Linked DNA regions of Homo sapiens: region 2 is linked to region 1. A link means that fine-mapping ties the variant in region 1 to the expression of a gene that starts in the linked region. Tissue or cell type: vagina. Region 1 holds a variant in brackets; the other region holds the start of a gene. All regions are shown on one strand. Distances are from middle to middle.

Region 1 (8,108 bases):
TTTGCCACGTTGCCCAGGCTGGTCTCGAACTCCTGGCCTCAAGTATTCAGGCCGCCTCGACCTCCCAATGTGCTCAGATTACAAGCCACCGTGCCTGGCCTCAAATTATTTTCTTTATTTTGTGGTTCTAATGAGAAAGCCCAGTCAGGAGAAAGAGCCTAGGGGGATGAGTTAATAACAGAACAAAAATAATGCATCAAAAAAGCCAGGAACCTATATCTAGGACACCCTGGTTTGAGGCCCAGTTTTAATATTCTATGACATTAACTTATCTGAGCCTCAATTTCCTCATCTATTAAATCTGATAATTACCACTACTGACCTCACAAGGTGTGTTCCAAATGAGATAACATTTCTGAAAGTGGTTTGTAATCTGTCCCATATGGTTCAGATATAAGCATTGTCCATGAACTAGAAGGAATCTCAATGATTAGGCCAACAGCCAACTCCCAAATAACTCTTTTAATCAGGAAAATTTCACACACCTTCTGATTTCTTCCCTCCAACCTTACAACTCCTACAACACTTCCACGTCTGAATACATATTTCTGCCTTAAACCAAATACTGAGAGATGACAGATTTACCTTCTTCCTTGTTCAGGGAAGCAATGAAAATGGGGAAAGAGAGCTTATTTGCTTATCTTGGGAGGTGTAGCCTGTTAATGAGCAGTTACTTTGTCAAAGGCAGAGAGGGCATTGTACATTGGAAAGGTTAACCACAAAAGGCAAGGCCACCAGATAGAGTTGAAAGGTTGTGTCCTCCACAAGGGTACTCAGCCAAGACAGTGAGAGGGCACTGAAAACCAGCCCGTGTTCCTCTTGCCAAGCCATATGCTCTAACTTAGGGCCACATGCTTTCAGAGGAAGGGAAAAAGAGTTGCCTTTTTCTCTGGACAAAGGTGCCACCTGCTACCAAGACTTATCCTTAAGGTGGTGTGGCCCACTCAGTGGCTGGAGGGCGGGAGGCAGGGAACACACATTATTTTATTTTACAAAAATGGGTAATGGCTCCGACGAAAGCCATAAATCAGGGCTGGGCATGGTGGCTCATGCCTGTAATCCCAACACTTTAGCAAGCTGAAGCAAGAGGATTGCTTGAGGCCAGGAGTTTGAGACCAGCCTGGACAACATAGCAAGATCCCATCTCTAAATAAATATATAAATAAATAAAAAGACATAAATCTGCGGGAAAGGGAGAGAGAAAGTTGAACAGAGACTTTAACAGTATTCCCTGGCTTCCAGTTGGTAGCTCAAAATCAGCATGGTGAAATTTTTACACCACGGAAATAGGCAAAGGCTATAGATCAGGGGTCCCCTTTGGAGGAGGGGGTTGTTACCCTTTGGAGAGGCAGTTGTTAAATATTTGCCACTACTGAATTAAAAAGCAGGCTCTAAGAGGAAGATGAGAACTAAAATGTATAAAGCGCCTTTGGTGTGATCCCTGACACTCATGAAACCTTGTGATACAGCTATTATTACCTGGCATTATAGAGCAAGTAGCTGAAAGTTTTAGAGAAGTTAAATTATTATCTCAAGGTCCCACCCAGTTAGAAAGAGGCAGAACTTGGACTCAAATTCAGCTTTTTCTGGCTGACTCTGAAGCCCATGGTCTTTTCACCACACTATGTGGTTTTGCTAAAACCCCAAGCCCATGATTCTGAGATGGCTCACCGACAGCACTTGCTTATCACATTAATTCTCCTTAGCATTTTTATTTCCCCCAGTGACATTCAGGCATTTTAAAGGCCACTGCGGCACTTCCAGCACATTCATCAGATTTGCTCCCATGGCTCCAACGTCAGCCTCCCCATTAAGATTCATCTTCAAAGAAGCCATCTGAGAGTCAACCAAGTTGGAGTTCAGTAACCACTCTGCGCTTTCTGACATTGGGAAGATATATTACCGTACTCCGGTGACTGCAACGTTTAGAACAGCTTTGGAAGAGTATTGTATCAATTATATTGTCCCTGTGGGAGCCCTATTAACATTAAAATGTCTTATAAGATGAGCTAAACACTTGCACAAAGAAAACCTTTCATATGAGGGCTTCTTCAAATTTATAGTTGTTAAAGCAAAAAAAATCGCCTTGCCTCTCCCTTTGCACATGACACAAGGATAGATGACTCTTCTTAGACTATTTTAAGCAAATTATCTTAGAAAATGAGAGCCCATCTCAGAATATATTATTTCAGGCCAAAGGCAACACCGTGTAGGAGGAGACAGCACGGATTAAAATCACACACATTATCTGGGTTCCGATTCTGGCTCTCCTACTTAGGATATCAATAAAATGATAGCAATTGTAGTAATAATTTAACAAGCAAAAATTAGGGACCAGGGGCTTTCTATAGTCCAAGTTGTTTAATTTCCACAATAATAGTGCAATGGGTATATTATTCTGACTTTAAGTATGGGGAAACCAAGGTTAAAAGAGGTTAAGTACAATTGCAACAAAAGCAAAAACTGACAAATGGGATCTAATTAGAGTAAAGAGCTTCTACACAGCAAAAGGAAACTATCAAGAGAGTGGACAGACAACCTACAGAATGGGAGAAAATTTTTGCAAAGTAGGCATCTGACAAAGGTCTAATATCCAGCATCTATAAGGAACTTAAACAAATGTACAAGGAAAAAAAAACAAACAATTCTATTAAAAAGTGGGCAAAGGACATGAACAGACACTTTCAAAAGAAAACATACATGTGGCCTACAATCATATGAAAAAGAGTTCAACATCACTGATCATTAGAGAAATGCGAATCAAAACCACAACAAGGTACTATCTCACACCAGTCAGAATGACTATTATTAAAAAGTCAAAAAAATAACAGATGCTGGCGAGGTTGTGGAGTAAAAGGGATGCTTTTACCCTGTTGGTGGGAGTGTAAATTAGTTCAGTCATTGTGGAACTATGTGTTCAATCAGTGTGAGGATTCTTCAAAGACCTAAAAACAAAAATACCATTTGACCCAGCAATCTCATTACTAGGTATGTACTCAAAGGAATATAAATCATTCTGTTATAAAGACACATACACGTGTATGTTCACTGCAGTACTACTACATAGCAAAGACATGGAATCAGCCTAAATGCCCATAAATAATAAACTGGATAAAGAAAATATGGTGCCTACATACGACAGAATACTATGCAGTCGTAAAAAAAGAATGAGATCATGTCCTTTGCAGGAACATGGGTGGAGCTGGAGGCCATTATCCTTAGCAAACTAATGCAGGAACAGAAAACCAAATACGGTATATTCTTATTTATAAGTGGGAGCTAAATGGTGAGAACACATGGACACATAGAGGGGAAAAACAGACACTGAGGCCTATTGGTGGGAGGAAGGAGAGGATCAGAAAAAATAACTGTTGGGTACTAGGCTTAGTATCTGGGTGATGAAATAATCTGTACAAGAAACACCTATGACACAAGTTTACCTATATTACAAACCTGCACATGTACCCCTAAACTTAACAGTTAA[G/A]TTAAAAAGTTTAAATTTAAATTTAAAAATGAGGCTAAGTAAATTCAACCAGCTCAGACAGGATGGTAGGCAGCTTCTGAAATGACCCTCAATGACTTCTGCTTCTTGGTATTCATACCTTTATGTAATTTGCTGCCCTTTTTTGTGGACTGGTCCTAGTGACTTTTAGCTAGTAAATAGAATACAGCAAAAGTGATGGGATGTAATTTCCAAGATTAGGTTATAAAAGACTATGACTTCCATCTCGCTTGTTCTCTCTCTTCCTCTCTCACTTGCTTGCTCACTCTGTTGGAGCCAGCTGCCAGGTTATGAGCTGTCTTATCAAGAGACCCATGTGGCAAGGAACCGAGGGTGGCCTCTGGCCAACAGCCCGTAAGGAACTAAATCCTGCCAACAACTACTGAGTGCTCTTGGAAGCAGATCTCACCTCCATTGAGCCTTGAGATGGCCATGATACCTGGGTTCCAGCGTTGTGAGAGGCCAGGGGACCCAGCTAAACTCTTCCCATATTTCTGACCCACAGAAAGTGTGAGATAATACATGTGTGTTCTTTTAAGCTGCTAAGTTATTGACTAATTTGTTACACAGCAATAGATAACTAATACAGGTGGTAAGACACAGAGATGAGGTTTCTAGCCAACTTTCCATCTTCAAAGCACAATCTCATTTTCTTGCCCTAAATTAATTCTTTACAAGCCATATGACCTTGGGCGAATTACTAGAACTCTGAAACCTCTTACCTACATTAATAAAATAGGAATGATGCCCACAGCACACTGATACAGACCAGCTTAAATGAGGCGATATATCTCATTTCATAAGAAGAGATAATGCCTTTGGCTGGCCTGCTGGTTGAAACAGGAAAGATGAGAAAACAGGAAAAGGTTGCCACAGGAGAATGTCTTAATAATGTCGGCTATATACAATGGTGAGTTTTGAAAGACGGTGTCCTGGGAAGCAAAAATTTGGAAGGCACAGTAGCTACATGACCATGGTCCAGGCATTCGACATCACTGATTTTATTCTCACTGGTAGAGCGATAAACATGCCCACCTCACTGGGATGCTCTGAAGGTTAATAATATGACATCATGTTTGTACAACACTTCGGACAGGACCTACATATAAAAGATACTCAATAGATTCTAGCCATTATTGCAATAATTTTCTAGACAGTATTAGTTTTACTAATAAGGATGGCATTTCAGGGACCTGCTGCAGGTGAGTCAAGAAGCATTTCTGGATTGAGGCCTGTAACCCTCATCATATTTTGCAGCTCCTCTTTACTTCTTAAATGCATCAGCTAAGTCCAAGTATTTATACTTTGGTTCCCCATCTCAATCTCTTTTCCCTTACCTATATATCAGATCTTTTTTCTTCTTTTTCTTTTGAGACAGAGTCTTGTTCTGTCACCCATGCTGGAGTGCAGTGGCTCAATCTCGGCTCACTGCAATCTCCACCTCCCAAGTTCAAGTGATTTTCCTGCCTCAGCCTCATGAGTAGCTGGGACTACAGGCATGCACCACCATGCCCAGGTAATTTTTTTTTTTTTTGTATTTTTAGTAGGACAGTTGGTCTCAAACTCCTAACCTCAAGTAATCCTCCCACCTCGGCCTCTCAAAGTGCTGGGATTACAGGCGTGAGCCATGGCGTCTGGCTATGTATCAGATCTTATCGCATAGTTTCTCTATCAGTAGCTATGCTCTACAAAAAAAAATTAAAAAGAGAAAGCCTCCATTTAAATTAAGTGCTTGATTGCCTACTCAGAGATGCTTCTGAGGGATCAAGCATCAAACATCTGAGCCACTGCTAATAGCTATGACTACTATGAATAGAAAACTTGATAGAAAACATGTGGCACTTAGTAGGCACTCATGGTGATCTTCTCAACTAGCAAGAGTAATCACATCTGTCTTGTTTATTTTCATGCCTCCAAGGTCTGGCAGAGGGCCTAGCTTACAGTAGGTAATCAATCAACATGTGCCATGCCAATAAATACACTGGACTAACACTATGTCTTTTTATTCTCCCTAGACAATCCCTATTTGATTTTCTAAAAATTACTTTGTTCATTCAAAGTTTTGGTGTATAGAATTTATTGGCGTATTGGATACATGGGGGGCAATTTTCCTTTCTTCCCCCGCCCCATTATCTGCTCTTAGGTCCTGGCAAATCTGGTTAGAAAATACAAGAATTCCCTTCCCATTCACAGATTCAACGTCCACTCAGTTTCCTAGGAAATGAAATAAAAGGAGACCAAAAAAGTAAATAACAATTGAATAACAACTATGTATGCTTTGCTGAGTTAAGTATAGGGATCTACTTAGGTACTGGAACCACTCAGGCCTAAGTTAGCTAAGGCTCATTTCTACAGCCACAAAGGACAGTCCTACCGAAGCATGCTGTGCCCATTTGCCTTGTTTTTAAACCTCAGATATAATGTGGATGTATTTAAAGGACACTGATGAGAAAAATCATGGATACTAAATTTTACATACCACTCATTTATTTCCCTTTGACTGGTAATCAAAATGGTCTCTCATAAGGCATAATTGTGTAGACGAGAACAATTTGCACAGATGATTTAGGAATGATTATTTTATGAAGGTCATCGTTTCACTGATTTCTCTTTTTTGTGCATTTGTTTAATGGAATTGGGGTGCTAAGGAGTTACAAACAGAGAAAAGACTTACTCAGTTTTTAAAAACCCAGCAAGATGTGAACCATATTTTAGAAATGGAAACAGAGCAGTTGTATTAAAAGAAAAAAAGCTCACAAGACTTAGAATCTAAAATGTATGTGTATGTGTGTGCACACGTGTTCTAATCCTTGCCTTCCTCTAACTCGCTGAGTAAACCTGAACAAATCACTTCATCTCCTACAACTTCAATTTCTTTATCAAATAGACAAAAGCATTCTAATCTCTCTCTGGCCCATTTGTGAATCTTAAAGGAAACACTGCCCATCACAGCGCCTAGCATAGCTCCAGGGAGATAGCAGGTTATGTATTCAGCCTTTGTTAAATTTGCTAACGGCAAATGAAGTCTAGCTAGAAGGCAGCATTGCATAAACCAAACATTTGAGTGGTTAATGGAGAAAGAAATAGAAATCTCCTTTTCCCCTGCATGGTTTGGATTTGGTTTGGCCCCACCGTGTCTCATGTAGAAATTCGATCCCTAATGTTGGAGGTGGGATATGGTTGAAGGTGTTTGGGTCATGGGATTGGTCCCTCTTGAATGGCTTGGTGCTGTTCTCACTGGAGTGAGTTCTCACTCTTAGTTCCTGAAAGAACTGATTGTTGAAAAGTTCTTGGTACCTCTTCCTCTCTCTCTTGCTTCCTCTCCTGCCATGCCACCTGTGCACATGCTGGCTCCCCTTCCCCTTCCACCATAAGTGGAAGAAGCCTGAAGCCCTCACCAGAAGCAGATGTTGGGGCCATGCTTCTTGCAGATCCTACAGAACCATGTGCCAAATAAACCTCATTTATTTATACATTACCCAGCCTCAGATACTCCTTCATAGCAACACAGACTAGGACGTCTCTCTACTCCATTTTCTATTTAACATTGGATGTACTGTCACAATTAAGGGCCAGAACTTTGTGAAAGTTACTACCATAGAAATATGGAGCCAAATTGATAAAAAATAAAATAAACAGCTATTGCATGCAAAATGTTTGTGTTATTTGAACTGAACTTCAATCTTGTGGGTTTTGCTAAAAACATACTGAAAATTTCCACTCCCTCAAAAGCAGTTTTAACTTTTCAGTAAATATTTTATGTCCTCCATTGTTAGACCTAATAGAAGTCCCAACAATTGGAAAAATTGACGCTTGGAAAACTGATAGGTTTACAATAATTCTAGTTCTTCATCCCCCAAAAGAAGTTGATTTGTATTTCAAAGAAGGAGGAGAAGCTGCAGGCTACCAAGGGGACCTCATGCTGTTAGGCGCCCTGCTTTATTCAGAGTTCAAGTCTCTACTGTGAGTTCACCTGTTCTGACAACCCTATAAATGCTGTTGCACCCAAGGGTCTAAGAACTCAATTCTTCTCTCGCTACACACTTGTCTGAAGTGATGGCTTGAATAAACTCATATATGCTTACGAATTCCAAATCACCTTCCCAATGTGCTCAACTCCCCAGCACCTCACGTGCAAGGGCACAATGGACACTTGTCCCATTGTGTCCCATCATGTACTAAACCACTGTCACTTATCTTTGTCTTCACTAAATCTGATTCTATCTCCTCGAGAGTGGCACCATCATCCACTCAGGGAACATGAGCCAGAAACTTGGGAAACTTTTTATGCTTCCCTTCTCCCTAATGCAAGTCATATCGACCTTGCCTTCTGCATTTTCATGAGTCAAACCCATCCCCACCCTGTCTACTGTCACTGCCCAGCTTCACACTCACAACATCTTTTACCTGCCATATTGCAGAATGTTCCTAAAAGATCTTCCTTCCTCTTGCCTTGCCTGCACCAACCCATTCGCCACATGGCAGCCATAGTGATAGTCCTAAAAGGCAAGCCTGACCATGTCACCCTGCTACCTACAATCACTGCATTGTCTCCTGGGTTGGAGGCAACATCACTTGGCATCTTACATCTTACGTGTGTTCATGT
Region 2 (8,108 bases), 950 kb after region 1:
CAGAAAATCCTTGATTGAGCCACATTTTACGAGTAGTCAGATGACTATGCCTTAAAGATAAGTGACCATAAATGATGTTCTGTCTTTTCCTTCTTAGGCAGGGTATGGCTCCAAGGGTCAGGCGGTTAACATCATCCATGTAGCTGGCTGGATTAAGACTGAGGGTCTGCTTCCCAAACCTGGCCATCTTAGCAGCAGGGAGAAGCAAGCTTCATTTGGGACTTAACCCTTAGCCAACATCCAACTCAGTTTTGTTTGTTTTTCCCCAAAGAACCCTCAGAAGTGAGCATTTGCCCATAATCAAATGGTAATCTGTTTCACATTCTATCATTGCTCTGAATATATAGACTCTGGGTTAAGAACCTCAAGGGAAAGAAGTATGAGTGGTAGGATTCAAGCACTAAGATCCTATCTGAACTCCTGACCATAGACAGCAAAGAGGGTCACGGCAGACTGTGTGCTGTGGAAGAATATCTTCTGTGGGAGAAGGAGAAAATCAGGGAAGGCTTCCTGAAAGAGGTGACATTTGAGCTGAGACTGTAAGCATGAGTAGTATAGGCTTAGACAGTGGGACCCTCAAAGAATTCTGAACACTAGCATAACTTAAGTTTTTAAAAATGACCATGTTAGGGGGTGATCATTTTCTTGAGACAGCAAATTAGCCAGCATCCTGCCTCTGGATTTGAGGGTTTTGGGCAATCTGGATACTGGGGAAATAGTCTCTGGGTAGGGTAGGTAATGGTCAGTAGGCTCTCTCTCAGTTTCAGTGGATTTCCATTCCCACCTCCACTATTCAAATTCCTTTTTTTCTGATTTTTGAACTCAGTTTCATGACTATTTGAGACATAAGAAGGGGGTACCCTGCACAGAGGGAACAAGTAGCCTAGTCACTAGAAATGGACAACCTCAAGTGTATTGATAGAATAAGTCAAAGGCATTACCGGCACTTCTTCACTTGCCACGTCCTCCAAGGTCAGTCAGGTTCCCTCCTTCCTTCTCCACTGAATCTGTCCTAGGAGAGTTCCACCCATAACCTCTCATCTCCTGAAACCATCGATAATTTTGAGCCTTCATGCTATCAGGCCACACCTTGGTAGGAAACAGGCTCTTTTCCTTTGCCTTCTGGGACACCCCTCTCTCCTGGTTCTTCTTCCCTCTCTCTGGCAACCCCTCCTCAGCCCCCGCTTTTAAGGCAATGTCACTGTTTATTTCTAAGCGTCTTGGGAAAGTCTCTATTCAGGACCCACAGGGATGAAGCCTAGGCCCAGGGTAATCTAGCAGAGGCACTGCCTCTGATAGCCCCACGCCACTTACATCTCAACTAGCACCCACCGGATGGTGGTAGAATCTGTATGCAAAGAGGAAATGAAACTGTCAGAGAGAAGAGGGTAGGAGAAGAATGGAGAGTAAAAGCTCAGGGTGAGGGAAGGGGAGATATGGTTGTAAAAGGAAGTTGAGCCAGGGAGGACATTTCAGATAAAGCAGTTGAATATTCATTCAGGGAGCAGGTTGATTTTTTTTTTTTTTTTTTGAGACCGAGTCTCACTCTGTTGTCCAGGATGGAGTGCAATGATGCAATCTCAGCTCACTGCAACCTCCCCACCTCCTGGGTTCAAGCAATTCTCCTGCCTCAGCCTCCTGAGTAGCTGGGATTACAGGCGTGCACCACCACGCCCGGCTAATTTTGTATTTTTAGTAGAGACGGGGTTTCACCATGTTGGCCAGGCTAGTCTCGAACTCCTGACCTCCTGATCCACCCACCTCAGCCTCCCAAAGTGCTGGGATTACAGTCGTGAAGCACCACGCCCGGCCCCATCACAGACTTTTGAGTGCAATGCCAACAGGTTAGAGGCAGACTTCAGGAGGGTTAAACCAGTTTTATGTGCAGAATGGTGGGGGCGCGAAGCAGACACACTAGGGATCGGTACAAAGCCCTGCTGCCTGCTATGTGATCACCTCACCTAAATGCCTTCCCTCTTCTGTGTCACTGAAGTCTTTCCTACTTCATGGCTTGACTCTATAAAAGCTGTCCTTGATGGCTGTGGCCCACCTGATGTCCACATTCATAAAACTTTCTGGACTATACAATGAACATATCATTCTCTCTGCAGAGAGACTCAAAGGACGTACAGAATCTGAGCTTATCCTTCATTTGTTAGATGCATGAGCCCAATCAGAATACAAGTTCTCACATACCACATTTAAGTCACCTGGCAGCACTAGGCTGTGTACAGTGTAAAGATACATTAGATGCTTTCAGAAACAGACGGGCTTCGGAATATTTATTCTTTTCCAGAGTGACAGATTCCGCCACATGGCTCTCCAGCTAGAAGACTACATTTCTTAGTCTCCCTTGAAGCTAGGTCATTGTAACTATGTTTTTGCCAAAGGAATGTGAACAGCAGTAATGTGGGCAGCCAGCCTAAAAGGTAACTACTTGCCCTGAACTTCTCTTTTTCTTTCCCTCAATCTTGAACAAGGACATGCAACCTGGCTTCTACTGTACTGATGAGGACAAAGCCTCAGGGGGATGGCAGAGCAACAAGATGGAAAGAACCCGGGTCCCTGAATGACCTTGCGGAACAGAGTCATCCCACCAGCCCCAGACCAACCAGACTCTTATCAGAGAGAAAAATAAACTAGCTTATTTAAACCACTATATGTTAAAATCTCTAATTCAGCAGTTAAGCCTCTACTTAATACATTTCCCCAAATCCATTCTCTCCATCTTCTTTAATACAATAATTCTGATTTTTGAACTGGGCATATTATGTCTCAGCTAATAGGCTCTATTTTACATCCTCCTTTGTACCTATGTGCAACCATATGATTAAGTTGTGGCCAAAGAAGTATAAAAATTGTTATATGAAACTTCCGAGTAATCCCTTTATAAAGTAGTCAGTGACCTTCTTCCTGCTTCATTTTTCCCACTGTCTAGAATGTGAACATAATGGCTGTAGCTCAAGCAGTTATTTTGAACCATGAAGTTACATGCTAAGAATTGTGAAGAAACAGAAGGGCAGGATCCAGAGACACTGGTGACCAAGGAGCCTCCAGACCAGTTCTGGATTACCTATTTCTAGTTTTCTTTCTGTAAGAGAGAAACTTCTATCTTGTTGAAGCTATTAATGTTTGCTTGTTGTATACAGCTGAACTTAATCCTAACAACAGACACATCCACTAACAGATATGAGCTCCTGGGACTCAACACTTCAAACCCCAGCTTGATGGTTGGATATCCCTCTTAGCAGAAGAAAAGGAAAGTCACTACTTCCCAAAGTTGCTTAAAGAGGCCAGTTTCCATTCCTTCTGACCACCATCCGCTTGGCTTTTGTGCTCGTTGAAGCAGCTCTACAGGGAGGCCCTTGGCTGACAAACTCCCAGTCTGCGGGCCCAGCAGGCCACAACAATGGTGGCTCGCACTAGGGGACCATAACATATGTGGCGTCATAAAAGAGGAGGGATGGGAGTGGGGAGGCTGATGTGACCCAGCTCTGACGGGTCAGTGAGCAGGAACAGAATGCTACGAGGTGGGCGCTGGTCACTGCAAATTTAAGTCAATACAGACAGGGAGGAAATAAGGCAACCTCTCTCTTTAGGTTGGGGTTTTTCTGCTTCCCCCTAGCTGCCCTGGCCAGATGGCGGCCTCCTCCCCTATAACCCAACCCCAGGCGGCAAAGGTGGAAGCCAGATCTAAGAACTGGGGGAGCTTAGACTCAGCACCCACCCCTATCCACAGCCTTGCAGAACTTGGATGACCCCTCCCTCTCCCAGCCTCACTCTCCCCATCTGTAAAGCGGGCGGCAGGCATTGACAGCTCTTTGGGCCTTTCCTCCAGGCCGGCGGAGGCCTGGGCACTGCGCTCCCCATCCTGGCCTCGCCTCTGCAAGAGCTGCCTCCACGGACATCTTTTCCGACCCCCTCCCCCTCCCTCGCCCCCTCTCCTCGTTCCCCCGATCCTCGGTCCCCCACCCCCGGTCTCCCCTCCCGCAACCCCTCGCCCTCCCGCAGCCTCACCCTCCTCCGACAGGTAGCGCAGGTCGTAGAACTCCCCCGCGAAGGTGCCGTAGGAGGAGTCGTGGCGCGGCACCGCCTCGTCGGCGCCCGTGTCCCCCCGCGCGCGTCCCCGGGGTCCCCGGCCCCCCGGGCCCGCACCGTCGTCCGCGGGGCTGGCTGCGCAGGCGGCGGGCCCCGTCAGTAGCAGCAGGAGCAGCGACGCCCAGACCCCCGGGTGCTGCCGGGGCGGCCGCGCCATCCGTGCGCACAGATCCCGCAGCCAGGCCGCTCGGGCCGCAGCGGGGGCGCCGCGGGCGCGGGCCGGGACTGAGCCTCCGCCGAGGCCACCAGCACGCGCCCGCGCAGCCGCGGAGCCTCCCGCACCCCCGCCTCCCTGCCTCGGTCTGCGCATCCTCGCTCCAGCACCGCAGCCTCCCCCTTCTTCTTGGAACCCCCCTCCTCCCCGCACCGATCTCTCCTTCCTAGCAGCTTCCCTTCTACCGTCCTTCTTTCCATTCTCCCCATCTCCCCGACTTCCCTCCACGCAGGCAGATTTGGCCCTTCTGGCCCCTTGCTACTCCGGAGTGTGGTCCGCGGACCGGCAGCATCAGCATCACCTGGAAGCTTGTTAGCATCGCTGAGGCCCCACTCCAGACCCATGAAGCGGGATGTTCATTTCATCAAAATTCCCAGGAGATCCCAATGCACGTTCAATTTATGAAACGCTCCTCTAGAGAGTTTACCCTGGACACACCTGGTCAGTGCTGCCTCCTCAACCTTGTGCCGGCACTTTTTGGTTTACATAAAGCACTTGCTAGACCTATTATTTCTTGGATCATCACAGAAGGAACTTGAAATTGCAAGACCCCCACAATAGAGCTAGGTAAACTGAGGTGTTTAGAGACAGAGAAAACTGGATTCACCTGCTTCCTCTCCAGGCTCTTGCGGTGTGTAATCAACAGAGGCTGGTGCCAGTAGGTAACCTGTTCCCCTTCAAAACTAGGCTTCTGGTTTACTCTCTTTCCCTGCAGCAAGCACGCGCAGGCCTTGGAAGGCCCACACCGTATCTGAGGGCCATGCTGAATTGTTGATTTTTCTCAAATCCATTCCTGCTGCTTGCAGTTCACTTTTGGCTATTTACTCAGCCATCCATTGATTCACACCAAGCATTTGCTTTATGGCAGGTCCCAGGGTTCTCTTTTGATGATGGTTGTTGGGGTGATATATTCGAATTGCTAAGCTGTTTTCCATCAGAGAGGCGGACGCAATTCCTTTCAGGCTGGTGTTGCAGAGCCAGCATTTTAACCTGCTTTTCCTATTTTATTATTTTATTTTATTGCATAAACAAAATAATTATGGAGGCAGAAAAGCATAGAGGTCCCAAATGCAGACCTAGAAGTCAGACTGCCTGATCTCTCATGATTAGTCATTGACATGATGCAATGAAGATTAGGGAAGATCATAGAGGTAAGGATCAATAGGGTTCAGTGCTGTAAGTGGCATGCACACATGTACACAATATTGTGAAATGTTAATATTCAAAAGGAAACTAGTGATCTTAACCCTTTATGGCCTGATTGGCTGAGAGATAAGGGTAGTGCTGTTGAAACAGGGGAGACATGATGGGGGACTTAGAAGTCAGGTATTTTCTATTAGGTATCAGCTAACAGTGGGCTGTCCAACTGGAATTTAAACATATTAATCCTGATGGCTGAATTGAGGTGTAATTCATGAAAACCTTGGGCTTCACTAGGTCCCCCAACATAGCAGTTGTCACAAAAAATAGATCAGATTATTTGAAAAAGGTAAGATGAACTATGATTACTTTAAAAACTCAAGAGACTTCTTCCCAAAAAGCATAGCGTGGCAATGCATAACATTCTAAAAAAGCTGATCCAACAGATTGAAAATCTGTTAAAGTGTAGTCCTTCAAAAAAAAAAAAAAAAACAAAAACAAAAACAAAAACCTTAAACCTTTCTTAAAAATTAAAATTTCTTTATTTTCTTTTCTTCTCTTTCTGTTCACCAGGGAAGGTATGGTCAACTTAGAATGGACCAAAGTTTAGCCAAAAAAATAAAGCATTAGACTTTTGATTTCAGTGTAGATTCTCTGGTTTGGGAATACAAGCTTTTACCTCTTACTTTCCTTTTTATTCCCTTCATTTTGGTTACTGAAATTAACAATAACGGTGCCCAAATAGAAGGCAAATGAAAACCAGGCCATTCTTCTCCGAGTAAATTAATCTGATATAAAAACACGTGGGCAGCCGGGCACGGTGGCTCACGCCTGTAACTCCAGCACTTTGGGAGGCCGAGGCGGGCGGATCACAAGGTCAGAAGATCGACACCATCCTGGCCAACACGGTGAAATCCCGTCTCTACTGAAAATACAAAAAATTAGCCGGGCATGGTGTCGGGCGCCTGAAGTCCCAGCTACTCGGGAAGCTAAGGCAGGAGAATGGCGTGAACCTGGGAGGCGGAGCTTGCAGTGAGTCGAGATCAGGCCACTGCACTCTAGCCTGGGCGACAGAGCAAGACTCCATCTCAAAAAACAAACAAAAAACAAACAAAAAAACAAAACAAAACAAAAAAAACCACCACCACGTGGGCTTTCTATATTGTTTTTATGGGGGTATTTGGGTATTTTGGGGACGGTTTACAACTACAGCCTAAAATGAAGTTTGCAGGTAAACTGTGGATTTCAATTCTCTCTCTACTCATGTAGACTCACAGGGGGCCACAGATAGGCTTCAGGGGTGATATGAGGACCTTATGAAAGTGCTGGAATAATGTTGTGATGTATGGGTTTTTCTAGGGAGAAAACCCATAGCTTTTTTTATGAATTATTTTTTCCATGTTCAACTTTTTTTTTAATTTACTTTAAGTTCTGGGATACATGTGCAAAATGTACAGGTTTGTTACATAGGTATACATGTGCCATGGTGGTTTGCTGTACCCATCAACCCGTCATCTAGGTTTTAAGCCTGCATGCGTTAGGTATTTGTCCTAATGCTCTCCCTCCCCTTGCCTCACCCCCCACAACATGCCTCGGTGTGTGATGTTCCCCTCCCTGTGTCCATGTGTTCTCACTGTTCAACTCCCACTTATGAGTGAGAACATGCAGTGTTTGGGAAAACCTATAGCTTTTATGGGTCACTCAAGCCTTATGCCTTTTCAGGGCCCAGCAACCTATTCGGCTCCTTCCATTTCATGAGATTCTCTCCCATCCACTCAAATTGCCTTTGGGGATTTTCTTTCTCTTCATGTTTTCTGACACGATTTAAGTCCTGGAAAGAGTGGAGGCAGACCTATTCCAACCTTAAGCACATGCTCCCCTCTTAGTTACATCCTAGGTTTGCAGAGACCCTCTGTTCCCCACCAATGTGACTCTACAGAACAGCTAAGAAATATTGTAGTTTCCTCTACTGTGCAAATTTTCTGGGGAGGAACTTTGCCTGAACATTCTGAGACCACTGGCTGTACAAGAGCTGGCCACTCAAACAAAAACTTAGAGATGAACCAGATTTAAATTCATTTTCATTTTAAAAAGAAAGACAGTACCTTTATTTTCTCTCCACCTCAAAGCAATTTCTCTGACACAACCTTTTTTGCGATTAAAAACTCCCAAAATCATTGCTGCATCTTGGTATCTGATGAGTAACCGATTTGCCCAGGCTTCTGACTGTCTAGTATATATAATTTTTCACTTTGGATTTTGTAAGAAATAAAAGCTGTGATTGTGGCAGTTCCTTAGAAAGTTAAACATGGAGTTTCCATTTGACCCAGCAATTCCAAGAGAATTTAAAACAGATGTTCACACAAAAACTTGTACACAAATGTTCATAACAATATTATTATTATTATTTTCTAAGACGGAGTTTCACTCTTGTTGCCCAGGCTGGAGTGCAACGGTGTAATCTTGGCTCACCGCAACCTCTGCCTCCCGGGTTCAAGTGATTCTCCTGCCTCAGCCTCCCTAGTAGCTGGGATTACAGGCATGCACCACCATGCCCAGGTAATTTTGTATAGTAGAGATGGGGTTTCTCCATGTTGGTCAGGCTGGCCTCGAACTCCTGACCTCAGGTGATCTGCCCACCTCGACCTCCCAAAGT

The links. PIP is the estimated chance that this variant, and not a neighbour inherited with it, causes the effect.
Region 2: it holds the start of FRRS1L, and the variant in region 1 is fine-mapped to the expression of FRRS1L in vagina (GTEx, PIP 0.96).

Annotation. Positions count from the first base shown.
Region 1 is chr9:108,216,019-108,224,126 of GRCh38, forward strand. The region is part of intron 4 of LOC105376214 (a long non-coding RNA gene); the gene reads right to left. Among named protein-coding and RNA genes, the nearest start is that of ACTL7B, 640 kb to the right of the region's middle. The variant G/A (reference allele first, on the strand shown) is at 3,485.
Region 2 is chr9:109,162,884-109,170,991 of GRCh38, forward strand. It overlaps FRRS1L (ferric chelate reductase 1 like), which reads right to left and starts at 4,366. Exons shown (of 5, transcript NM_014334.4): 1 at 4,018-4,366. The coding sequence starts at 4,255.